Homo sapiens: one gene and its partners. The protein of the gene in region 5 purifies or fractionates together with the protein of the main gene of each other region. This does not show direct contact. Each region holds a gene or a part of one and is shown on either strand. Other genes may lie near its edges.

Region 1 (2,450 bases), on a different chromosome or scaffold from region 5:
TTTTTTACTGATCACATGCCTTTTTTGGTGGGGGGGGGGGGTTCTTTTTTTTTTTTTTTTTTTGAGATAGGGTCTTGCTCTGTCACCCAGGCTCGAGTGCAGTGGCGTGATGAGACTTCAATGCAGCCTTGATCTCCCAGGCTCAAGTGATTCTCCCACCTCAGCCTCCCAAGCAACTGGGACCACAAGGTGTGTACCACCATGCCTGGGTAATTTTTTGTTTTTTTGTAGAGATGCAGGTCTCACTGTTTTCCAGGCTGGTCTCAAATTCCTGGGCTCAAGTGATCCTCCCACTTCAGCCTCACAGTGTTGGGATTGCAGTCACGAGCCACTGTACCCAACCATATGTCATTCTTTAGACACACTGCTTACTAAATTTCTCTTTTTAAAGGATATACTGAATTTCCGGTTGAGCCAACTTAACAGCTAATTTTCTATTTTAGCTTTAAAACATTGATAAGCAACATGAAGCAATCTAGAACTTAACCTTTAAATGGCTTTATTAAAGCAATCCAGCTATGAAAATTATGCAGAAATGATTATCTACAATCTTACCAGCACATAAGAAATTCTTCCTCTATTCTGAAATACCATCTTCTCACAATATACTTTGATGTTATGAATCAATGTCTGTTCTTGAACATTATTTATTGTCTTTCTCTATTAAACAATTCCAAAATAAAATTTCCAGCACAACTAAATATTGTTGACGATAAGGGGATTTAAAAAAAAATTCTTTTAAAACAGAAGCTTATATACAACTTAGAATCTAAAACCAATAGATTTATGGGAAACCTTAAAACTGAACCACAACAAACAAAAACCAAAGTTTTAATCATTTAAAAATCATGTTTATTGAGGTACAACTTACTTATAGTAAAACCTGCCCTTTTCAGCATATAGCACTGAGTCTTGACAAATGCACAGTTACGTACCACCACCGACCAAGGCCTGGCACATTTTCATCTCCTCAAAGTTCTCCCTGGCTGCTTCTCCCACTCCTTGGCAACCGCTAACCTGTTTTCTGTCCTTATAGTTCTGCTTTTTTCAGTGTCATATAAGTAGAATCACACTGTACATAGTATTTTGAGTCTGACCTCTGTCAACTGGCATAATGCATTTGAGAATTACCCATGTTGCTGAACTGGCAGTGCATTCTTTTTTATTGCTGAGCAGTATTCAATTGCACGGCTGTACCAGTTTGTTTATTCATTTGCCAGTTGAAGGATAACTGAGATCTTCCTCGTTTTTAGCAATTTTAAAGAAAGTTTCTACGAATAATTGTGTACAGGTTTTTAATTAAATGTTTTGGAGATATAATTCATATACCACATAATTCACCTTTTTAAAGTGCATAATTCACTGGTTTTTAATATATTCACAAGGTTTGTGCATAGGTTTTTGTGTGAATACTGGTTTTCATTCCTCTTGGATAAAGATTTAATTTGGTATTACCCTTCCAGACACCTTTCTGTGTTTTCATACGTATATATGTATGACAGTTTGACCTTAGGCAGAGTAGCATTTTCAAAATTTTACATGGGGAAACTTTCTAGAGTTAAAGTCATTTTATTTTTCTGTTCTGTCTGGTTTTATCTGCGTGTTATTTACAATCTGCTGCGTAACAAATTACTACAAACTTAGTACCTTAACACATATTTATTTCACAGTTTCTGTGGGTCAGGAGATCAGAAATGGTTCTATTTCAAGGTCTCTCACAGGGCTGCAATCAAGATGTTGGCATGGCTGGGGTCTCATCTGAAGGCTGGACTGGAGAAGAATCTACTTCCAAACTTATGTGGTAGTTGGAAGAATTTAGTTCCTCAAGGCTGCTAAACTGATGGCCTGTGTTCCTTGCCTCTGGGATGGTAGCTTGCTTCAACAAAGTGTGCAAGCAGAGAAGACAGAGAGAGGCCGCTAGCAAGATAGAAGCCACAATCTCTTGTAATCTATCATTCTTGCTGTATTCTACTGGTTAAACATAACTCATTAGGTTAGCCTACTGGCTCTCAAGGGGAAGAGATTATACAAAGGCATGCATTTCTGGAGGAGGGAATGAGGGCAAACAATTCTGAAAAGTCTGTCTTCCACAACCTGAAGAACTTCTAGAAAGTAGGAGGAAGCGATATTGCTTAGGGATGGACAACTTGGCACTGGTTATGTGTTCCAAGTGAGGTAACCTTGTTCCCAAGAATAAAGAGAACCAGACGACTGTAAACATTTCCCTAAACTGAAATGCAGACTGTTGTATGTTCACCTGAAATGAATGGTGTAAGCTGAATATAAGATTTTTGACAAAATAAAAATTTTGCTGTGTTCTCAGATCTGGCAGGCTCCTGCCCTTGTGCAAACAATGTTCCTGGCAGCTATTCATCTCCTTAGGTAAATAAGAATTGGAGAAAAGCTGTGCTTAGATAGGGTGCATTTGCTCTTGCCTTGGAAGGCTGTTT
Region 2 (3,987 bases), on a different chromosome or scaffold from region 5:
GTCCTGAATTCACCCCACCCTGAGCTCCCTCTCACCAGGGTTGCGCCTCCTGTAGGTGGTCCTGGACAGGGTTGTGTCCGTTCCACTGGGAACCCAGGGCTCCTCGCCACGCTCCAGTTGGATGACCACACGAGGTCGAGAGGTGGAGAGTCCTGTGAGGAGGAGGTGCAGGTTAGAGTCCAGCCCCAGCTCAAGATAACCCACCTCCAAACAGAGGGCAGGAGTCAGGGCTTCACGGAAACAGAAAATGTCATCTGTGCAACTGCAGAATCTAAAGATGGCACAGGGCAAGGGGCTCACAGGAATAGCTCATTCATCCCCAGGGCAGCAACTGTGCCCAGGGCACCAAAGGAAGGGGACTGAGCCAAGGCTCGGAGAGGCCACAGCCGGACAGCGCCACAGGGAGTGGTTGAGCCAACCAGACTGCATGTCTATAGGACCAGACCCCTATTCCACATGGCTCCTGGCTGCAAGGTATAGGCCTGCTCGTCAGCCACCAGGGAGGTGAGGGGGCAGCCCTGGCCAGTCAGCTTGTTATCAGTTGCCCATTTCATGGAGTATCTAGGACCTTACCCAGCGAGGCCACAAGTGCGAAGTTGTCTAGCATCACGCGGCGGTACAGGGCCCTCTGGGCTGTGTCCAGGAGCCCCCACTCCTCCTGGGAGAAGTACACAGCCACATCCTCAAAGGCCATCTGGTCCTAAAAGAGCAGGGAGGAAGAGACAGCCATGGTCTAAGGCTGGGTTATCCAATCTTTTGGCTTCCCTGGGCCACATTGGAAGAAGAATTGTCTTGGGCAACACATAAAATACATTAACACTAATAACAGCTGATGAGCTAAAAAAAATAAAAATTGCATAAACATCTCATGTTTTAAGAAAGTTCACGAACTTGTTTTGGGCTGCATTCAAAGCCATCCTGGGCAGTGGGTTGGACAAGCTTAGTTTAAGGTATGGCTGTGAGCCAGGACCAAGCTCCCCATCCCAACAGCCACCTTCCATGATGTCCCTCAGACACTCACCCTCCTTCCCTGGGTTCTGCCCCCACCATCTTCAGATGGCACTTCCCTCACATGTCTGGGACCCCTCCCCTCTGCCCTCCCTGACCAGACCCCAGATGCCTTCTTGGCCTCCCCACTGGCAACGCCATACACAAGCAAGCTAGAACAAGTCCTGGCTGGGCCCTCAGCTGCCACACCAAGAGCAGCCCCAGGTGTCCACTCGTGACTCAGCATGACCACTCATGACCCTCCCCAGATGCACCCTTCCTGCTCTTGTAGCAAGAAACTGTGAGTCCCAGCAGGGGCTTCCCAGGCATACCCATCACTGGGACCCTCCCCTGCTGAGCCTGCTTGCCTGACATTTCCAGGCTGCTCATCCAGCCTGAGGGACTGGATGATTCTCACCAGTCGCCACAGGGGAGCAGCCTCAACAACCTGTGAACACAGAGGAACTCAATCCCTTCCTCCTTTCACCCGGTGTCCCCTTTCTTCCCCTCTCTGTTGCCACCCTCCCCTCCTCAGTTAGGTGCTAGGCTCTTCCCAATAGCCCCAGGCATCCCAGCTGGTCTTCTTTACCCTCAAGCCATAACTGCCCACACCTGGCTGAGTCCCTGCCCATTCCTCAGTCCAATTCATAGGCCCTGTCCACAGCCCAGGACGCCAACAACGTCAGGTCCAGTGACATGACCAACCTGGGACATCCCAGACTCTTGATCTTTCCCCTGAAGGAAACCTGCTTTCCTTTCAATTCTCCTTTCTATCTACAGCAGCTCTCTTCTTCCAGGCGCTCAGGCTGAACAACATGGGGTACTTAGTTCTTCAAACAGCCCACACCTGATGCATCCGCAGATCCACCAGAATTCACCTGGTCGCCCACCTCCACTGCTGCCCAGACTGTGGCAGTCGGTTCTTCCCTTCATGCCGACACCCCTGCATGTCTGTTCTCCACGCAACAAACGGTGGAACCGTTTTAAAGTCCTCAGAGGATGTCCTGATTCTGTTCAAAACTTCTATGTCTCCCGACGCCCTCGAGATAAAGCCCACTCCCTCGCCTGATACTGCAGCCGCACACATCCCCTCTACTCCAGCTCCACATCGAGAGAGCTCAGTCCCAGAAGCACCTGGGCTTCGGCTCCCCTCCCAGGTTTTGCACACGCAGGACTCTCCCCTCGGAGCCTCCTTCGGGACCTCAGCCCCCTGGCTGCCCGAACTCGGGAGCTCACCAGTGCCCTGGACGCAGGAGTTTGCACTGACCCCCGCAACCCCCCCAGGGCAGGGAGAGGAAAGACGACTAGGCGAGGTCTAGGAAGCGGCCTCCCTCCGTGAGGGCGCGGTCTGTGTGAGCAGGGACTCCCCTGCTTCCCCGACGCGGGCTTGTCAGCGCCACCGCCGCCAGCGGAACCCGCAGCTGGGAGGGAAGAAAGGCGTGGACCACCCAGCCTTTCCCCGCCAGCAGCGTCCCGGGGCCGCCCCGCGCCTCAGTCTCCCCGGCCATCATGGACGTGGAACGCCCAGCGCGCAGCCTCCTGGGCTGCCGCACGGTGGGAGAGCGCATGGCTCCCGCCGCGGCCCGACAGTCCCCTGGACGCCCACGACGCACTCTGAGAAACAGAGGCTTGGGGGCGCGGCCGGCGGCCGGCGCCCTTGATCACGACGCGTGCGCAGGGCGGGCCCGACGCGGGCCCTCAGCCAGTACCTTCCTCGCCGCCAGCCTCGAGCACCAGGAACCCCCTGGAAACCGGACCCGACCCGCGGTCCCCAGCCCAGACCACCGGTGTGGCCTGACGCGGGCGGCGAAGTGACAGTCCCACCGCCGGAAGTCCAGCCCTTCGGTTCTCATTGGCCCAGTGCGCGCCGCGGACGCTTGCGTACAGCCTTCCGGGTCACGTGGTTCCCGCCTGTTTCCCTGCGTGGAGGCGGGGCCACTACCGGTCTCCTTGGCAACGTCCAAGCCCCTGCCGCGCGGGGCGCTGGGAAATGGAGTCGCGCGGCGGCCTCGGGTTTTCAAGGGCTTGGTGGCGCTGGTGGATTCGCCCGGTGTGTAGTCCTGCCTTCGGCATTCCAGGTGTCCTCCCAAGCAGTCCCGGAGACTAAACCCTGCAGGTGCGAAAGCAGAAACTGCCGAGGTTCCAAGAGGCAACACCAGCAGTGAGCACGGAGGAGAAAATGCACCGGGTAGCGCAGGTGGAGGTGGAGGAGCCGATGCCTGGAGCTCCGGGTTCCCTTCCCAGCTCTGCCTCTCACTGACTGTGCGTCCTGGGCGCGGGTTTGACCTCTCTGTGTCAATGTCCCGTAAAGGTTTAAGGTCCGTTTTCAACCTTTACACCAAGAATTCTCAGCCCGTAAGCCTACATTTGTCTTAAGTATGAGACTGTTCCTCGACACTTGCCCAAAGCATCTGTTTTCCTTGTAATTTGGATGGGCAGAAGTTAATTCCCCAGATTTGCTTGTCCTTAGACCATCTAGATCTTGTCTTGCCCCACACATCACAATATTCATTCTTTTTTCCTTTTTTCTTGGGACTCATTTAAGTTTTTTTTTTTTTTTTTTAACAGGGTCTTTGTTCTGTTGCCCGTGCTGGAGTGCAGTGGCACAATCTCGGCTCACTGCAACCTCTGCCTTCAGGTTCAAGTGATCCCCCCGCCTCAGCCTCCGTAGTAGCTGGGACCACAGGTGTGCGCCACCATGCCTGGCTAATTTTTGTATTTTTTAGTAGAGATGGAGTTTCACCATGTTGGCCAGGCTGGTCTTGAACTCCTGACCTCAGGTGATCCGCCCACCTCGTTCTCCCAAAGTGCTGGGATTACAGGCCAATTTAAGTGTCTTTGACACATAAAAACGAAAGGCAGAGCAGTCTCAATGTAGACTGTCTTGTTTGGCAGATAATAAAAGGTTCTTTGTCTTGTTTTTGGAACCTGTAGACAGTTCTCAGCTGTCCAGTTCCTTAACTCTTTTTGCCTCCCTCCCTCTATACCTACCTCCATCTA
Region 3 (3,500 bases), on a different chromosome or scaffold from region 5:
TTAGCCTAATGTTCCCTTATGCAATGATCTTTTTCCATCCTAATTCAGTCAACGAATTAGTTATCCTCTCTTTTCTTGCCACTCGTAAGTTCAAAAACTTGCCATGTGATTATCATAGAAGCCAACATCATCCAAGCTAAACAGCCTACAATCAAATCTACAATGTCACTAATGTCAATTCACTCACTAATAATCTTTGGGTATTCCTTTGCAGTACAAAGCATATGCAATTAGATAAAGCCTCACAATGTTACTGGAGAAAAATGTAGTAAAAATATTTACATACACATTTCATTTTTCAGGAAGAGAAATGGAGTCTCAAAGGCTAAATGATATCTGTATGTGACACCAGCATTTTAATGCTTTTATTTTTCAACTAATAAGCAAGTTAACTTGCCCTATATGTTTTAGAGGAAATTCAAGGACAAACATATATAAATATAATCTATGCTCTGAAGAACAGTACTGATCAAACATAATGAATTAGTATTTTTTGCCCAGAGATCATGCTCATGCTCAGTAGCATAAAGTATACTGACTTCCGTTAGAATTGCTGCTTTATAGGTAAAGGGAAAATCCACATATTTGGGCAAATTTGAATGCACAGCATTAATACATTCAAAACAATCTTAAGAAATTTCTAAGATTACCTCATACTAATGAAAATTATCCAGCAAATACAGTCCTTCTCCTATAGCCTCCCTGCCCCATGTGCCCACCCAAGACTCAGAAAAGATGTTCTGAAATGACGTTTTAAACAAGATGCTCCTATTAAAAACAAAAACAAAAGCATCATTCTGCATTGTTATACATTTGATATTAAACTTTCCACAAGCAAGGCTGTGAATAATCAACTTCAGCATCATTGTCTATACACTTATAAATACGTTATTTTCCTGTTTAGCTTACCAGAATCACTGTTTATCAAAACACCAAGAGGATCTGCATTTGCCTCCGGTGGACCTTCTAGCTTCAAATCACACAAGTGACTGCCTGATCCAGTGACTGCTCTCTGTCTAGAATTGTCGTTTTTCCATTTGTGATTCTTGCCAGGACTTCTGATCTTTGCCATTTGTGAATGTCTGGACATCCCCTTCATCTTGCTGGAGTAAGAAAATTGCAATTTTTAATATAAAAGGCACTGACCTTCCAAGAAAATTTTGAAAAAGACTACTAGATACAAAAGAAACCTAGCTGTAAAACTGATCACTTGTAGCCTAGTACATTAAAGAGACGAAAATAAAAGAAATTCCAGTGACTTTCAAAGACAGGGAAGCCTATGATAGAACTTTAGAAGGACAGCACCCCACAATATACCACACCTTCTTGATTCTACGCTGCAAATTTCTACCCATATTGTTATCCCTCTGAAATTGGGCTGTGTCGTATTATCATTAAAGGCCAATTTAACTGGCAGCATTATTTCATTCTTCTATTGTACATGAAAGTTTCTTTTTTCTTCTCTTTTTTTTTTTTTTGAGACAGAATCTTGCTCTGTCACCCAGGCTGGAGTGCAGTAGCATGATCTTGGCTCACTGCAACCTCCACCTCCCAGGTTCAAGCGATTTTCCTGCCTTAGCTTCCCAAGCAGCTGGGATTACAGGCACGTGCCACCACACCCAGCTAATTTTTGTATTTTTAGTAGAGTCAAGGTTTCACCATGTTGGCCAGGATGGTCTCGATCTTCTGACCTCGTGATCTGCCCACCTCGGCCTCACAAAGTGCTGGGGTTACAGGTGTGAGCCACTGTGCCCAGCTCAAAGTGTTTCTCAGAGTTTATAAAGTATGTTCACTCTTGTCTACTCATTTTATTTTGAGACGGAGTCTCACTCTGTCGCCCAGGCTGGAGTGCAATGGCATGATCTTGGCTCACTGCAACTTCCACCTCCTGGGTTCTAGCGATTCTCCTGCCTCAGCCTCCCGAGTAGCTGGGACTACAGGCACCCACCATCAGCCCGGCTAATTTTTGTATTTTTGTAGAGACAAGGTTTCACCATGTTGGCCAGGATGGTCTCGAACTCCTGACCTCAGGTGATCCACCCACCTCAGCCTCCCACAGTGCCAGGATTATAGGCATGAGCCACTACACCTGGCCTTGTCTACTCATTTTTAAGGAGTTAAAGTTTCTGAAGCATTTACAAATATGACTTGTTGGACCTTCATGAACCCTCTGAAATAGGTAACACAGGTACTATTTTCTCTGCTTTATAGGCCTATCAGAACACATAAGCCTATTGCAATTTCACAGCCAGCTCAAATCAAGTGCCCTCTCAACAGCTACAACTACTTTTAGAAAGAAAGCAAGTATTGGCCGGGCGCGGTGGCTCACGCCTTTAATTTCAGCACTTTGGGAGGCCAAGGTGGGCGGATCACTTGAGCTCAGGAGTTCGAAACCATCCTGGGCAACTTCGTCTCTACTAAAATACAAAAAATAAGCTGGGCACGGTAGCAGGTGCCTGTAGTCCCAGCTCCTCGGGAGGCTGAAGCACAAGAATTGCTTAAACTCGGGAGGTGGAAGTCACAGTGGGCCGAGATTGTGCCACTGCACTCCAGCCCGGGCAAAGTAAGACTCTGTCTCCAGAAAAAAAAAAAAAAAAAAAAGAAAGCACGTATTTATGTGAGCATCTTCTAATTTAAACTGTGTGTGTGTGTGCGGGGGCGGGGAAGACAGTTAAAAAAAGGTTCCTTCATAGTAGACAATAACACAAGGTATTCATTGGTGGGACTGAGTTTTTGCAAAGATAGGCTTTTGACAGTTTGCCATTTATTGGGCAAAATTCATTTTTCATTAATAATGGAGGATGCAGTAAATAATTAGAAATCTGCATCTAAATCTCAACTTTGTCAGTTATGGGCTGTGTCTGCTGTACAAATATTTGTAAGCCTAAGCCTGTTTACTCCTTTAAACAGAATGGGAATTATAGGGACATAGAATTCAGATAATATAAATACAGTACTTCACAGAGCAAGATAACACATTAAGCCCTTAATAAATGGTAGTTTACTATCATAACATTTTTGAAATAATTTGTTAAATCAACATGTTTATATATCTGCAATCCAGAGATTTTTAATCCCTTTAGGGTCATAATAACCCTTGGAGAATCTCATTACAAAAATTAATATATATGTATAGTCCAAATTTTGCAGAAAGCCATGGACCAATCTCCTATGTCCATCCACAGATGTCAGGCTAAGAACCTAACAGTGTCACTGCAAAGAAAACAGGTCTAGTTTCTGCCTCCAGCCCACTGGCCCCATAAGGATAATGAAGAGATGCCACTTTCTTTGAGCTCCCATTCACGGATGCCTTCCCCGTTATCTTTTCTCTTACAGCATCTGACCACAGCTAGCTTCTGAATGATCATCATTAAGGTATTCACTAATAAGTAATGAGTTAAGAAGATCCTTCACTAATGACATCTATAAGACTTAATTGAGAAAGTAGTGTATCTGTTATTTGCACTCTATTTCACCTTCAAGGGAGTAGTTCTGTTATA
Region 4 (3,500 bases), on a different chromosome or scaffold from region 5:
TATTCAGGAATCCACATTTTAAGAACCACTGCTTTAGGGCAACAGGCATTAGGTTCAATTTGGAATGGATTAATACTCAAGTACTAATACTTAAGCTGATTAAGGGCTTAATACTTTGTGGTTTCTTTATAGAAAATATCATTATCTGAAATTATCTTAGTTTATTTGCATCACTTATTGTTTTCCTCCCTCAAGAATGTAAGATTCATAAGGAAGGGATCTTGTCTGTCTTGCTCATCACTATATTCCTAGCACTTAGCACAAAAGAAATTCAGTAAATATTTGTTAAATGGACAAGTGAATAAATAAGAAGCGTTGTAATGCAAATGCTCACAGAAAATGAGCAACTAGAACTGAGACAGAGGAAAGATCCCAAGGTTCTGCGATATTGATTGCAAGAGCTCCCATTTGCAAGGTACCCACTGTTTCCTCAAAAGGACGGAGGCCCAGGAACACCCAGAGTGGGCTTGGGAAAGCCCGGTGGTCTAGGTTTCAGCCCAGAAAGGGCTTAGGGACTATGGACAAAAAAAAAAATAAAAATAAAAAATAAAAAAAGAGAGAGAGAATATTCTAAAGCAAATGCTATTCCAGGCCAGAGAGAGAGAGAGAGACAGAGAATATTCTAAAGCAAATGCTATTCCAGGCCAGGTGTGGTGGCTCACGCCTATAATCCCAGCACTTTAGGAGCCTGTGGCGGGCGGATCACCTGAGGTCAGGAGTTCTAGACTAGACTGGCCAACATGGTAAAACCCCGTCTCTAGAAAAATACAAAAATTAGCCAGGTGTGGTAGCGGGCAACTGTAATCCCAGCTACTCGGGAGGCTGAGGCAGGAGAATCACTTGAACCTGGGAGGCAGAGGTCACAGTGAGCCGAGATCGCGTCACTGCACTCCAGCCTGGAGGACAAGAGTGAAACTCCGTCTCAAAAAAAAAAAAAAAAAAAAAAAAGTTGCTATCCCTGTAGCCCAGCTAAGCCTCCTCACATTTAAACATTATCTCCAGAACAGGTCTCAACACAACTATTCTTAGAAGGAAAGACAGGGAAGAAAGAACAGAACCAGGCAGCCAAGGCCTTAATGACAGGCAGGATGACTCTTCTATTCACAACAGGAAGCTAAGAGGTTCCAAAGTTGTACATACAGGGAATCAAGAACGTAGAGTCTCTTCCTGGGCTTTATTTAAATGTTTTCTCCCAAGAACTATATGTCTTAAAAGACTATATTCTCCAACCTTAATCTCTAAATTATGAAGTTTGGCTAGAATACTCGAATACTTTAAACAATGCCCAAACTCTCCTAGTTGTAGCTAAGTTGGTAGTTGATTTCTTTATTTGGCATTCTTTTGGTTTTAGAAAATAATAGTTTTAGAACATACTTTAAAAATGCACAATTTTTCAGTTACCTGAAATATTAGGTTTCTTTTTCACTGGTGAATAAACAGAAAACATCCACTGCCCTGATGATTCCCAAACCTCCATATCTTTTACAATTCCTTCCCTGCAAAAAAGAAAAAAAAAAAAAGAGTAAAGGATCTTCTTAGCTGCTTGGTAAAATTTATTGTTAATGGTTTTCCACAACTGAAAATTTAAATTCTAGTAAATACTTTTCCATTATATTTTCTGAAGAGTGTTCTTTAAAGCACAAGTTTATAGAAGTGTGAACTATATTTCATGGTTACAAATAGTATTATAATGTCAGAGAAGTTAATGAGTTTGGCTTTCCAATACACTGACCCATTAACCAATGTTAATACATAACATTGGTTATGATATGTAACCATATCATATGGTATCATTGGTATGATATGTAACATTGGTTATGATAGTAATTACATAAATACTATCATAGATACCATACTTTTTTTAGGAATTAAAATCTAAAATACTAACTTTAATCTTTGTTAATTATCACAAACATCAATAATCATTTAACTGGGAAGAACAAAGTACCACTTACGTGATACAGAATCATAATATTTTAAAAGTGGGTTATAGGACTTCAGAGATCATTTTATCTAATTCTCACATTTTGCAACAGGGGAAACAGACCCACATCCATACAACTAATCTGTGGTAATGCCGTGGGTAGATTCGGCTCTAAATTAAAGTTTCTCCCTACTTAGACTATGTCAATAAAAGGAGAATTATCACAGAGAAAACTGTATTAAATTTAGAATTGCAACAAATGCAGAAAGGAAGGTTTTGTTTGCTCATTTACTTAAAAAAAAATCGGTTGTATATGGTATATGACTCAACATGTCTACAACTGGTTCTGATTTAATTAGGATAAGTAAAAGACTAACCAATTACATTTAAATTCCATCCTAGTCACCATGAGTTGAGAGAACATTACAGATAGCCAAGCATTGTTTTGACACCAGCCATAAATTTTACCATAAATATTCTCAAGAAATGTCATGTATCTACTCCATAATAAATGTAGGAAATCAAATGAGATCAGTTTGAATAGGATAATCCAAGTAAAAGTTTTAGAAAGAAATAAGATATGTGGCTGGGTATGGTGGCTTATGCCTATAATCCCAGCACTTTGGGAGGCTGAGGCAGGCAGATCACTTGAGGTCAAGAGTTCAAGACCAGCCTGGCCAACATGGTAAAACCCTATCTCTACTAAAAACACAAAAAATTAGCTGGCTTGGTGGCAGGAGCCTGTAATCCCAGCTACTTGGGAGGCTGAGGCAGAAGAATGGCTTGAGCCCAGAAGGCGGAGGCTGCAGCGAGCCGAGATTGTACCACTGCACTCTAGCCTGGGCAACAGAGCAAGACTCCGTCTCAAAATAAATAAATAAATAAATAAATGAGATGGTAAAATGACCTCCAAGTTCACAAGTTGTTCTAAATTACATCATACTTTGTAAAGGACTTGTAAGTTAGAATGAACTTAAGCAGGACTAATCTTAGAAAGATATTCACAATATAGTGTTATCAACACAAAGTGGAAAAAGCGTAATTACCCCTAGGAAGGCACTCTACTATTATAGAAAGATGATATATTTTTAAGTGAAATAAAATCTAGGGTAATACACAGCAAAAGAGTGGCTATCTATGAGTGATAGAATTGTGGGTGATTTTTCTTCTTTTTGCTACTCTGATTTAAAAATAATGCATTATTTCTTTTTTTAAAGAAAATATTGTATTGTGAAAAGATGTTACAAAAAAAGAGAAACAACAAAGATTGTAGGTGAAAAAACATAAGCAAATGGATAGTAATTTTCCTGAAAACTTTCACTTACAGAAGTTTCTTTTCATCTTTCTGCTCATCAGGACTAAGTGAAGCAAATGGGTTCTCAGACAATCCAAAGCCTTCCTTCCTGTTAGTTGAAGCTCCAGAATCAAAAGAACTGAAATATGGCTTTTCTTGATCTCTGCTGCCCCCCCATGGTGTGGATTTGGAGAAACTGGATGGCTGGATGACATTGGAATATCTCTGGCTAGTTGTATTCCATCCACGTCTATTATTACCTAAAATAAACAATAAAACAAA
Region 5 (3,500 bases):
GCTGATCCCCTTCAAGAACATGGACATGGAGCACCCGGTGTCAGCTCTCTGAGGAGTGTGCCGGGTAGATGGGCTGAGTATCCCCCTCCCCCGCCACCCCCCGCCGCAGGTGCTACCCTGAGACGACTCCTCGAAAAGTGCACCTTTGGGAAAGGGAGGGGTCGGGACGGTGGATGGAAGCCCCTGGTGTGCCAAGGTAACATGCCTGCTTCTGTGGGCCTCCAGGTCGAGCATCTGACAGAGTCCAACTGTCTCTCAAGGCCAGTCTCTGGAAGGAGCGTGTGTCCTTTCTCATGAGGATTTACGGACAAAATTACCTATGAAGGCAAGCCAGATTCATGTATCTGCTAAGGCCAGCCAGGGATGAACAGGGATGCAGTGCTTTCAGTCCTGGTCCCGCTGGCTCACGGCTGGGGCAGGGGAAGAGCAATCCAGGGCACACAATGTACAACGTGTAACGTCACTCTTTATTATGAAAATAAAATGGTGATCATGAGTGGGGCGAATACACAGAGCAACTGGCTCTTTGGGTGGTTATGTCACGTGGCCTGCAAGTTAACGTTGGCTTCCTGGTCAGCCAGGCCTTAGGCTGGTGAAAAGAGGAAACAAAGAGGATGTGAACGAAGACAAAGAAGACATCGGAGGGCTCCTTTTAGGAGATTTGCTTGAAGGCCTCCGCGGGGATCTTGCCCTCGGTCTAGAGAAAGTAAAGAAAAGGAGTTGGGATGTTAGTAGAGCCAGGTGCACTGGGTTCCATCCCCACACTACCTGGCCTCCATCTTCTTGGCCCTCCTGACGACCCAGAGACAGCTGTCTTTTACCCACTTGATTCCCAGACCTCACCTGGAGCATAGTGAAGGCCTGGCCAGCTCTAGTGTAGTTCCACTCATTGTCCTGAAGGCACCTGGGGTGGGAGAAGAACAGGTGCTCTCCATTACTAGCCCAGGACAGACACGCTGACTATGCAATGCCACCCTTAATCTATGCTACCTTTTTGCTGGGTCACATGTACCAATATGAGCACTATTGTAACAATGAAAAAAGGCCTGGGGAAAACCAAAACGCCCATCCCTGACATTAATGCCCACTAGAATTCAAATCAGAAACATAGCGGTATTCAAATGAACAAGGGAGCTTAATACATATTGATAAAGAAAGATGTTCAAGAAATAACAAGTGGAAATTCAATAATACGTTTCTTTTCTATTGAGATATAATGCACATACTGTAGCAGTCACCATTTTAAGGTGTACAATTCAGTGCTTTTAAGTCTATTCACAAGATTGTGCAACCATCACACCTATCTAATTCCAAACTGTTTTTATCACCTCAAAAAGAAACTCCTTAACTGTTAGAGATCACTCCCTGTTCTCCCTCTTCCCCAGATCTTGGCAACCACTACTCTGCTTTCGGTCTCTACGGATCTGGCTATTCTGAACACTTCGTATGAATGGAATCATATAATTATGTGGCTTTTTGTGACTGGGTGCTCCCACTTAGCACATAATGTTTTCAGGGTTCATCCACGTCATAGCATATATCACAACTACATCCTTTTTTGTGGATGAATAATATTCTAATAATATTCCACCGTATGGATGTACCACATTATCCATTCATCAGCTGAAGGTCAATCCATGTGTTTCCATTTTTTGGCTATTTGGAATAATGCCACTACGGAAATTCATGTGCAAGTTGTTGAATGGGCATATATTTTCATTTCTTTTGGTATACACTTAGGAGTGGGATTACTGGATCATGTGGTAACTCCATGTTTAAGATTTTGAGGAACTGCCAAAATCTTTTTGCCAGCAACTGCTCCACTTTATGTTCCCAGTAGTAATACATGAGATTTCCAATTTCTCTGCATTCTCACCGACATTTGTCATGTTTCCTTTTATGGACTAAAGCTAGCGTAGTGGGTATGAAGTGGTAACTCACTGTGGTTTCGATATGCGTTTCCCTAATGACTAACGATGTTGAGAAGATTTTCACGTGCTTCTTGGTCATTTGTATATCTCCTTTGGAGAAACATCTATTCAAATCATTTCCCCATTTTTTAATTCGGTGGCTTGTCTGTTTGTTGTTGAGTTGTAAGGGTTCTTCTTGTCGGCGATGTGATTTGCAAATATTTTCCCTTGTTCCCACCAGTCGGTTTTCCGCTTTCTTGATAGTGTCTGCTGATGCACAAAAGCTTTTAATTTAGATGAAGTCCAATTTACCTATTTTTTCTTTGGTTGCTTGTGCTTTTGGTTTCATATGTAAGAAATGGTTGCCTAATTCAAGGTAATGAAGATGTACACTTACAGTGTTTTACAGTTCTGGCTCTTATTTTAGGTCATTGATCCATTTTCTGCCAGTGTTTGCACGTGATGTGAGTTAGGGGTCAAAATTAATTGTTTTGCAAGTGGATATCCACTTCTCCCAGCACCATTTGTTAAGAAGACTATTTTTTTTCTCCATTGGATTTTTTCAGCACCCTGAATGATAATCAACTGGACATAAATACGTGAGATTATCTGTGGACTCTCAATTATATTCCATTGATTCCCACGTCTGTTCCTATGTCGGTACCATACAGTCTTGATTAATGTAGTTTTGTAGCAAGTTCTGAAATCGGGAAGTGTGAGTCTTCTAACGTTGTTCTTCTCTTTCAAGATGGTTTTGGCTGTTTGGGGTCCACTGCATTTCCACATGAATTTTGGGATTACCTTGTCAATTTCTGCAAAGAAGTCAGTTGGGATTCTGTCAGGGACTGCAATGAATCTGTAGATTGTTCTGGGTGGTACTGCCATCGTAATGATATTAAGTCTTCCAATCTATGAACGTGGGATGCCTTTCCACGTATTTAGGTCTTCTTTAATTTTTTTCAGCAATGTTTTGCAGATTTCAGAGTACAAGATTTGCGCTTCTTCTCTTAAATTTGTTCCTACATACTTTCTTCTTTTCGATGCTACTGTAGATGGACTTATTTTCTTAATTTCATTTTTTTGGATTGTCCATTGCAACTACATAGAAGTACAAATGATTTTTGTATATTGTATCTTTCAACCTTGCTGACCTGGTTTATCAGTAGTTTATTGTGGTTGATTCTTTCAGATTTTACAAATGGAAGGTAATGTCATTTGGGCATTATGCCATTTAAAAAAATATTTACATATACCAGTATAAAAGTATGATACCTTTTTCATGGACCCACTTTTTTTGGAAGCAAAATACCCAGATAGTTATTTTTCCAAATTGCATGTGAGTTTCCATTACTCATTCCTCTGATGTCCCAACAGCCCCCATCCCCATGTACTCCCAGCACTCACTTCTGAGACCACTCCAGTTTCATCCCAGACTGGGCAGAGAAAGCCTGCACCATTTCCTGCTGCTCCTGGGAGAGGGAGGGCTCAGAGCTGGAGGAGAGTGTGGACACTGGGATGGAGAAGGCACTCTGAGTCTCTTGGGGGCTGGCATCCCTCACAAACAGCTCGTCATTCACGATGCACAGACTG
Region 6 (3,500 bases), on a different chromosome or scaffold from region 5:
ATAATAGAAAAATAATTCCATTACCTTCTTTGCTTCCAACTATGTTAAAACATAATAGAAAAATAATTCCATTACCTTCTTTGCTTCCAACTATGTTATTAAAGTAGACAATCTTAAGATAATTAAACAACTTTACAAATTATTCTTCTATATGATCTTTTGCCTCTAACCTGCTCACTTTACAAGGGAACTGAAGCTCAAGCAGACAAATGCCTTGTTTAAAGATATACAGCTAGAAAGGAGCACAGCCCATGTTATGTAAACAGGACAATATCTGATGCAAGCAGTACTTCTTTACATGACAGCAGATGTCACTATAAGCAAATACCTGAATTCACTTAAGCTGCCAAATATCAAGAACTGATGCAGGGCTGAAAACAGGAACAGTAAGACCCTAAGAGATGCCACATCATCGCTATCTTGCACAGTAAGATAGAGATGTAATTGTAATTGTCCAAAACTTAATATTTGTGGCCTACTTTTTCATTATGCAGTTCTAAATTTCTCTCTTTTTTTTTTAATTCAAACGGAGTCTCACCCTGTCGCCCATCTTGCACAGTCAAATGAATCTCCCTCCCCCTAAAATCCTCCAAAAAAGCTGCTGTTCTCAACAAACCCATCTGATCAGCTCCAAATCTGTGGAGTCCCAACAAGGGTGAAGGCCGTGATTATACAGGACAATGAGGAAAAGTCTAGATACTGAACCATGAGTTCCCCAATCTTCTTCCCCTGGAACATAAGGGTAAGGAAATCTCTCAAAAGGCAGAACAAACAAAAGAGGAGAATAAGAGAAAAATTAGAGAAACTCCAGCTTTCAGGTAAACATCATTAAAAAAAAGGGTAAGAAATGGTCAAAGAAATAATACAAGAAATGCTACAGAACTGAAAGAAATGAGTTTCCCAATTGAAAGGACACTTCCAGAAAACCTTTAAGTTACCAAGAACAAGAATCTCATGGGACTCCTAACAACAGAACTTCTAGAAAATGGAGCAATGCTTTCAAAATTGCAAAAAAAATTATTTGAAACTCAGAATTCGATAACCAAATGATCAACTAAATTAAGTAAAGATGTTTTAAAGACATACCATTAGTTTCTAGACCAGCCTGACCAGTATGGTGAAATCCCATCTCTACTAAAAATAGAAAAAATTAGCCGGGCATGGTGGCGCACACCTGTAATCCCGCTACTCGGGAGGCTGAGGCAGGAGAATCACTTGAACCTGGGAGGCGGAGGTTGCGGTGAGCTGAGACCATGCCACTGCACTCCAGCCTGGGCAACAGAGCAAGACTCTGTCCCATAACAAAAACAAACAAAAAAACCTCTCATCCACTTTTCCTCAAAGCAAGTGAGACTATGCTACACCAAAACAAAGAAAGTAAATGAAGAGGACATGAGATACAAGAAACAAAGGGTCTAACTCAGAAAAAAGATGAAGGGAATTCTCAAACTGGTGATAAAGGGAAGTCCCAAGAGCACAGCTGTGTAGCAAAGAGGAAGAAAAACCAATCCGGGTTGGAGAAGTTGGTTAGTAAGGGTATTCCAGGTAGACAGACAATCAATCAATCAATCAATGTTTTAAGCTGAAATTGATGGGATTATGTGACCAGTTTGACCACATTTGAGGGTTTAAATTGCTGAGTTTAAGTAAGCAAGTAGTAACACAACATACAAGCAAACCAAAAAATAAAGCAATTATTCAGTCCAGGAAAACGTGGGTGCAGCACACCAGCATGGCACATGTATACATATGTAACTAACCTGCACAATGTGCACATGTACCCTAAAACTTAAAGTATAATAAAAAAAACAACAAAAAACTGCACAACAAGGGCAATTCAAATGCAAAAATATTTACCTTCTATTTATATAAATGTTAACTATTCATTTAAACAAAAACTGCAGTAACAGTACTGAAAGAATGAGGGGCAAACCAAAGTGTCTGAGGACAGTTTTGGAGGAGCATAATAGCCAGTACAGAATGTCTAAAATGGGGCCGGGCGCGGTGGCTCACGCCTGTAATCCCAGCACTTTGGGAGGCTGAGGCGGGCGGATCATGAGGTCAGGAGATTGAGACTATCCTGGCTAACACGGTGAAACTCCGTCTCTACTAAAAATGCTAAAAAATTAGCCGAGTGTTGTGGCGGGTGCCTGTAGTCCCAGCTACAGGCTGGGGCAGGAGAATGGCGTGAACCCCGGAGGCAGAGTTTGCAGTGAGCCGAGATCGCGACACTGCACTCCAGCCTGGACGATAGAGCCAGACTCCGTCTCAAAAAAAAAAAAAAAAAAAAAAGAAAAGAAAAGAAAATGTCTAAAATGGGAGAAAGGGAATTAAAAATAACAAAAGTATATATGTGTGTTACTCAGAAGTATGAAGTATAGATGTAAAGGGCAGAAAAAACAACTAACAGCTGTCAAAGGTGCCTGCCTGTAGTCCTAAGTACTCAGGAAACAGAGGTAGGAGGATCATTTACGCCCAAAAATTTGATGAGCAACACAGCAAGACCCTATTCTAAAAAACAAATAAATAAAAATAAGAGCTGTCAAGTAGACTTTGAGAAGTAGGAATCAGCTGCAGAATAAGAAATCGACTTGACAGAACATAGAAAAACTAAACAGAAGCCATCGGGAAAAAGAAAAACTAGAGAAAGAATTATATTTTTTTCCTTTTTTCTTTTTTGGAGACAGAGTCTCGCTCTGTCACACAGGCTGGAGTGCAGTGGCGCAATCTCTGCTCACCACAACCTCTGCCTCCAGGGTTCAAGCAATTCTCCTGTCTCAGCCTACCGAGTAGGTGGGACTACAGGCGCTGCCACCACGCCCGGCTCATTTTTGTATTTTTAATAGAGACAGATTTTCACCATATTGGTCAGGCTGGTCTCTCGGCCTCCCAAAGTGCTCGGATTACAGACGAAGAATATTTTTAAGAAGGGCAAAAGCACATGTGAGGGAGTAGAAAAATGGCAAAACAAGAGAAGACTAACAAATGAAAGCACAATGGAAGACTAGAAAGATATGATATACAGACGCATCATCACACACCAAAACTCCGACATTCTAGAAGGCATGGGCAGTTCACAGATGGCCAGCCTCTGCCAAACTGGGGGAGAATACTAACCTCTTCATATTCTTCACAGCCACTGCCTCTTCTCCCTCCATTCTTTACCTTCTATCCAAAGCACCCTGTTTTGTCATTTCACTCAAACCTAACTTTACAGAATAGCTTCACATGTTCCAGTTACTCACTAGTTAATCCATATTCCGCTGAAATCCCCAGGTTCTAATGTAAATGACTTTAAATTTGGGGGGGAAAAAAAGACTCTAAGTGTAAGAGAGGTGGTCATAATAACCAATCGTCAAAATGTTGCTACCACTCCACTTTATTTAATGGAGAAGTTATGTAGTTGAAAGAACATTCTGACTTCTGTCTAGACCAGTGGTTTTTAATCTTTTGGAAGCCAAGGTCCCCACTAAGAATCTCAGAAAGGCTCTAAGGTTGCT
Region 7 (3,500 bases), on a different chromosome or scaffold from region 5:
CACCACCTGCACAGCAGAACACAGCACCATTCCACAGGGAGCATCCCGGGGCGGGCAGCAACTCTGGAGGCACCCCCGGGAAGGAGCCAGGCATGGGGGAGGCGGAGGCGACCCCAGAAGCAGAGGAGCCGCTGGGGAGCCACGGCCTTCTGGGTGTGGAGCTGTGGAGGATGAGTGCCACCCCTCCCTTCCGGGCCTTCTACTCTGTAGGGATCCCTACGTCCAGGACCATTTGATTGTCAAGGTCTCGGCACCCTCGTCAGGTCAGCTGGGGGCCAAGGCCCCTAACTCCGAGGACTGGGGCCGCCAACATGGGCAGCAGCACAGGAGGCCGAGAGGAGGTCCACAAGGGCTGCACTTCCTTCCTGGCTGCAGTCCACCCCCCAGAGCAGGGCGGGCGTGGAGCCACTCTCACCAGTATTGTTGGCCTTGAGGGCCTGGTGGGCAGTGCCGCCTGGTGTGGGGGACAGCTCCTGAGCAGGCTGCCGCATTCCTGGCACTCTGGTCTCCCTGGGATTCTCAGGTGGCCCACGCTCGGCAGTGCTCGCCTTCTGGGCTCTCAGGGCTCGTTTCTGTTGCAGCTCCTGCAGTGGGAGCATCGCTGAGCACTGTCCCTGGGAGAGGACGACCCCAGGCTCCACAGCCAAGCTGCCCTGAGGCTAAGTGTCCCGGGGCCCAGGGAGCCCCAGCAGCAGCCCCGCACGGTCAGGCCTGGGCCACGGTGCTGCTCAGTGGTCCCTGCGCGGTCAGCACCTGAATGGCTGCTCGCCTGGCTTGGCGTGCCTTCTCCTCCCGGGCCTTCCTCCTGGCTGCCTCTTTCTGCTGGTGCAGGTCCAAGAGGGTCCCCTCGCCTGACCGCTGCCGCTGCTCCTGCCAAAGAAGCCGGTGCCATGTGGCGTTTACATCTGGAAGACGGAATCCAGACCCAGACCAGAGGTTTCCCCACAACGCCCTGGAGTCCCCTAGAGTTCGTGGAATCTCAGGGCCAGCAGGGAAAGTGAAACCCCACCAGGACCTTGAACCTGCCATTTCTCTGCTCTACAGAGGATGAGCCCTACGTCGCAGGTGGCCAACAGTTCTGGCGTGGGGGAGACAGCTCTGCCCCCACAGAACGTCCTCCTGAGACTCTCCAGCCTGGGATGGACCCAGCAGGCGTTTCCTGACACCCAGGCCCTGAGGACCGCCAGTGAGGACCACCCTGACTGTCCGCGGGGACCCAGGGTCAAGAAGGATGCTGCACCCAGAGACGGGGCCCACGAGCAATCCTAGGCTTTGATTCCACCTGTCCCAGAAACTCAAACCCCTGGGATTCTGGGCCAGACCCCCCGGGGGAGCATGGAGTGACTGAGACGCCCACACTGACCTCCCGCTTGGCCTGAAGCAAGTGCTCCAGGCGGGCAGCTCCTGCTCCGCGCCGCTGCACCTGGTGCCGGTACCAGCGCTGGATGGTGACAGTGGCCTGGTTCACCTGGTGGATAAACCTGCCCGGAGAGCAGGACTCAGGGCCAAGACAGGACCAGCGCCCCGGCAGGACCCAGCTGGCTGCTGGTGGAAGGTCGAGCCGGGGAAGAGAGAAGCCGGCGGCTGCACTCAAGTAGCCCTTTTCACAAGGCAGGACCAGCCCACCTGGACCATTTTCACATGGCAGGACCAGCCGCCTGGACCAGCTCCACTAAAACCCAAAACCTTCTTCCTGGGAAGGTGCCCAGGGGAGAGGAAACGCCTACCCACGCAGGCCTGTGTGGCCTTATTTACAATTGCCAGGAAGTGGGAAGAGTTCAAATGCCCATGACCTGGCTACAGCGTGAATACTGGATGGCGGGACCCTACCCACAGGCAACAGGCCCGGGACTCAGGCCAGTGCAGACCACAGGCCGTGGCTCCACAGAGAGGGTGGTCGGAACAGGCAGGGCTATGAGGGAACAGACTGGTGGCTGCTGGCATCTGGGCGGGGAAGGAGCTCGAGGGAAGCCTGGTGGTGCTGGGCCGTTTCCTTATCTTGGTCTGCTGTGTCCACAGACAGCACTATACACCCTGGTGGAATCTCATGGAACTGCACACTTACAATGGGCACCTTCTATTGTATACAAATTATACTAAGTAAAACTGATTAAGCAAAAAAAAAAATGCTTCACCTTGGCTCTCGGGACCATGTGTGGATTCTCTCAGCAAAGGCACTAACAGAGAACCCAGAACGTGTGAGCCCTAGCTCGGGAGCAGTCTGCCCCGGGCAGAACTGGGGGGCTTCAAGGGGTTGCGGGCTTCTGGTCCCCCTTCCCTCGTGCCACCCACCGCGTCTACAGGCCTGGTCTCCCTAGCCCTAACTGGGCGGTAGGGTAGGTGACGGCTCCGCCAGGAGCAGGCTCCGAAAGTCCAGGCAGGGAGGTACCCCCGCGACTGTCCTGACAAGAAACGACTGTCATGGTCACAGGAGGCTCCGCCCACAGCCCCTCCAGCTCCCCAGGGGCAAGCGGCAGGGGCACAGCCCCCAACAGTCATCATCACAGGAGGCTCCGCCCACAGCCCCTGGAGCTTTGGGTGTTGTTGGCTTTTTTCAGTTCTGTATCTTCTTTGCCTTTAATGTTGTTTTAATTAACAGTTTTACTGAGGTACAATTTCCATACTATAAAATCTACCCATTTTCAGTGTACAAGTCAATGATTTTTAGCAAATCTAGAGTTGTGTGACCATCAGCACAGTGCAGTTCTGGAATGTTCCACTGCCCCTGGAGGAGCCCTCTCTGCCACCCCTACACCAGCCTTCGACCTCCTGTGATAAACTTGCCTTTGCTTGGTGTTTTATGTAAATAGAACCACACCACATGGGGTCTGCTCGGTCTCAATATTTTAAAACAGGCCGGGGGTGGTGGCTCACGCCTGTAATCCCAGCACTTTGGGAGGCGGAGGCGGGCGGATCACGAGGTCAGGAGATCGAGAACATCCTGGCTAACACGGTGAAACCCCGTCTCTACTAAAAATACAAAAAATTAGCCAGGCGTGGTGGCGGGCACCTGTAGTCCCAGCTACTCGGGAGGCTGAGGCAGGAGAATGGTGTGAACCCGGGAGGCAGAGCTTGCAGCGAGCAGAGATCGCGCCACTGCACTCCAGCCTGGGCGACAGAGCGAGACTCTGTCTCAAAAAAAAAAAAAATTAAATTAAAACAATTATTAAATGGAAATTTCTATCCTCGGAGGTGTGAGCCCCCCAGACCCTGATGCCTGCCCACCTCTGTGTTCTAGGCTCAGGCCCCCCCCCACCGCCCCAAGATCGGTCACCTCTCAGCCTCCTCCTCCGTCACCTCCTTCCGCCTGGGCAAGCCCGTGCTGCCCCCAGTATTGTTCCGGGCTGAGTGGGTGGCACTGGAGACATTCTTCGGCAGCTTCCCAAAGCCGCTGCTCTCACTGCCCTCACAGGTGGCTGCCTTGATGATGTTGCTGACAGGTAAGAAGAAAACACCCTCGTCTCACCGCCCAGGGGAACAGCTCTGCCCACAGGCAGCAG

What was found.
Region 1: the proteins of NXF2 (region 5) and RGPD5 purify together in Homo sapiens (affinity purification with mass spectrometry, with the first as the bait; 2 studies listed by BioGRID). This does not show direct contact.
Region 2: the proteins of NXF2 (region 5) and ZNF324 purify together in Homo sapiens (affinity purification with mass spectrometry, with the first as the bait; 2 studies listed by BioGRID). This does not show direct contact.
Region 3: the proteins of NXF2 (region 5) and NUFIP1 purify together in Homo sapiens (affinity purification with mass spectrometry, with the first as the bait; 2 studies listed by BioGRID). This does not show direct contact.
Region 4: the proteins of NXF2 (region 5) and NUP42 purify together in Homo sapiens (affinity purification with mass spectrometry, with the first as the bait; 2 studies listed by BioGRID). This does not show direct contact.
Region 6: the proteins of NXF2 (region 5) and RGPD8 purify together in Homo sapiens (affinity purification with mass spectrometry, with the first as the bait; 2 studies listed by BioGRID). This does not show direct contact.
Region 7: the proteins of NXF2 (region 5) and CEP131 purify together in Homo sapiens (affinity purification with mass spectrometry, with the first as the bait; 2 studies listed by BioGRID). This does not show direct contact.

What each region holds. Positions count from the first base shown.
Region 1 is NC_000002.12:109,853,305-109,855,754, reverse strand, and holds part of RGPD5 (RANBP2-like and GRIP domain-containing protein 5/6), read right to left. Parts: exon of another isoform or gene 66-2,450; intron 1-65.
Region 2 is NC_000019.10:58,465,893-58,469,879, reverse strand, and holds the start of ZNF324 (zinc finger protein 324A), read right to left. Parts: upstream 2,801-3,987; 5' UTR 2,697-2,800; exon of another isoform or gene 1,702-2,696; coding exon of another isoform or gene 1,693-1,701; intron 701-1,692; coding exon of another isoform or gene 695-700; coding exon 574-694; intron 153-573; coding exon 36-152; intron 1-35. UniProt on the Homo sapiens protein: May be involved in transcriptional regulation. May be involved in regulation of cell proliferation.
Region 3 is NC_000013.11:44,958,472-44,961,971, forward strand, and holds part of NUFIP1 (FMR1-interacting protein NUFIP1), read right to left. Parts: intron 1,104-3,500; coding exon 910-1,103; intron 1-909. UniProt on the Homo sapiens protein: Binds RNA.
Region 4 is NC_000007.14:23,185,048-23,188,547, reverse strand, and holds part of NUP42 (nucleoporin NUP42), read right to left. Parts: intron 3,479-3,500; coding exon 3,250-3,478; exon of another isoform or gene 3,246-3,249; intron 1,497-3,245; coding exon 1,402-1,496; intron 1-1,401.
Region 5 is NC_000023.11:102,323,667-102,327,166, reverse strand, and holds the end of NXF2 (nuclear RNA export factor 2), read right to left. Parts: intron 3,498-3,500; coding exon 3,315-3,497; intron 905-3,314; coding exon 844-904; intron 698-843; coding exon 653-697; 3' UTR 445-652; downstream 1-444. UniProt on the Homo sapiens protein: Involved in the export of mRNA from the nucleus to the cytoplasm.
Region 6 is NC_000002.12:112,427,146-112,430,645, forward strand, and holds part of RGPD8 (RANBP2-like and GRIP domain-containing protein 8), read right to left. Parts: intron 1-3,500.
Region 7 is NC_000017.11:81,198,966-81,202,465, forward strand, and holds part of CEP131 (centrosomal protein of 131 kDa), read right to left. Parts: intron 3,434-3,500; coding exon 3,275-3,433; intron 1,482-3,274; coding exon 1,364-1,481; intron 871-1,363; coding exon 754-870; intron 585-753; coding exon 416-584; intron 7-415; coding exon 1-6. UniProt on the Homo sapiens protein: Component of centriolar satellites contributing to the building of a complex and dynamic network required to regulate cilia/flagellum formation.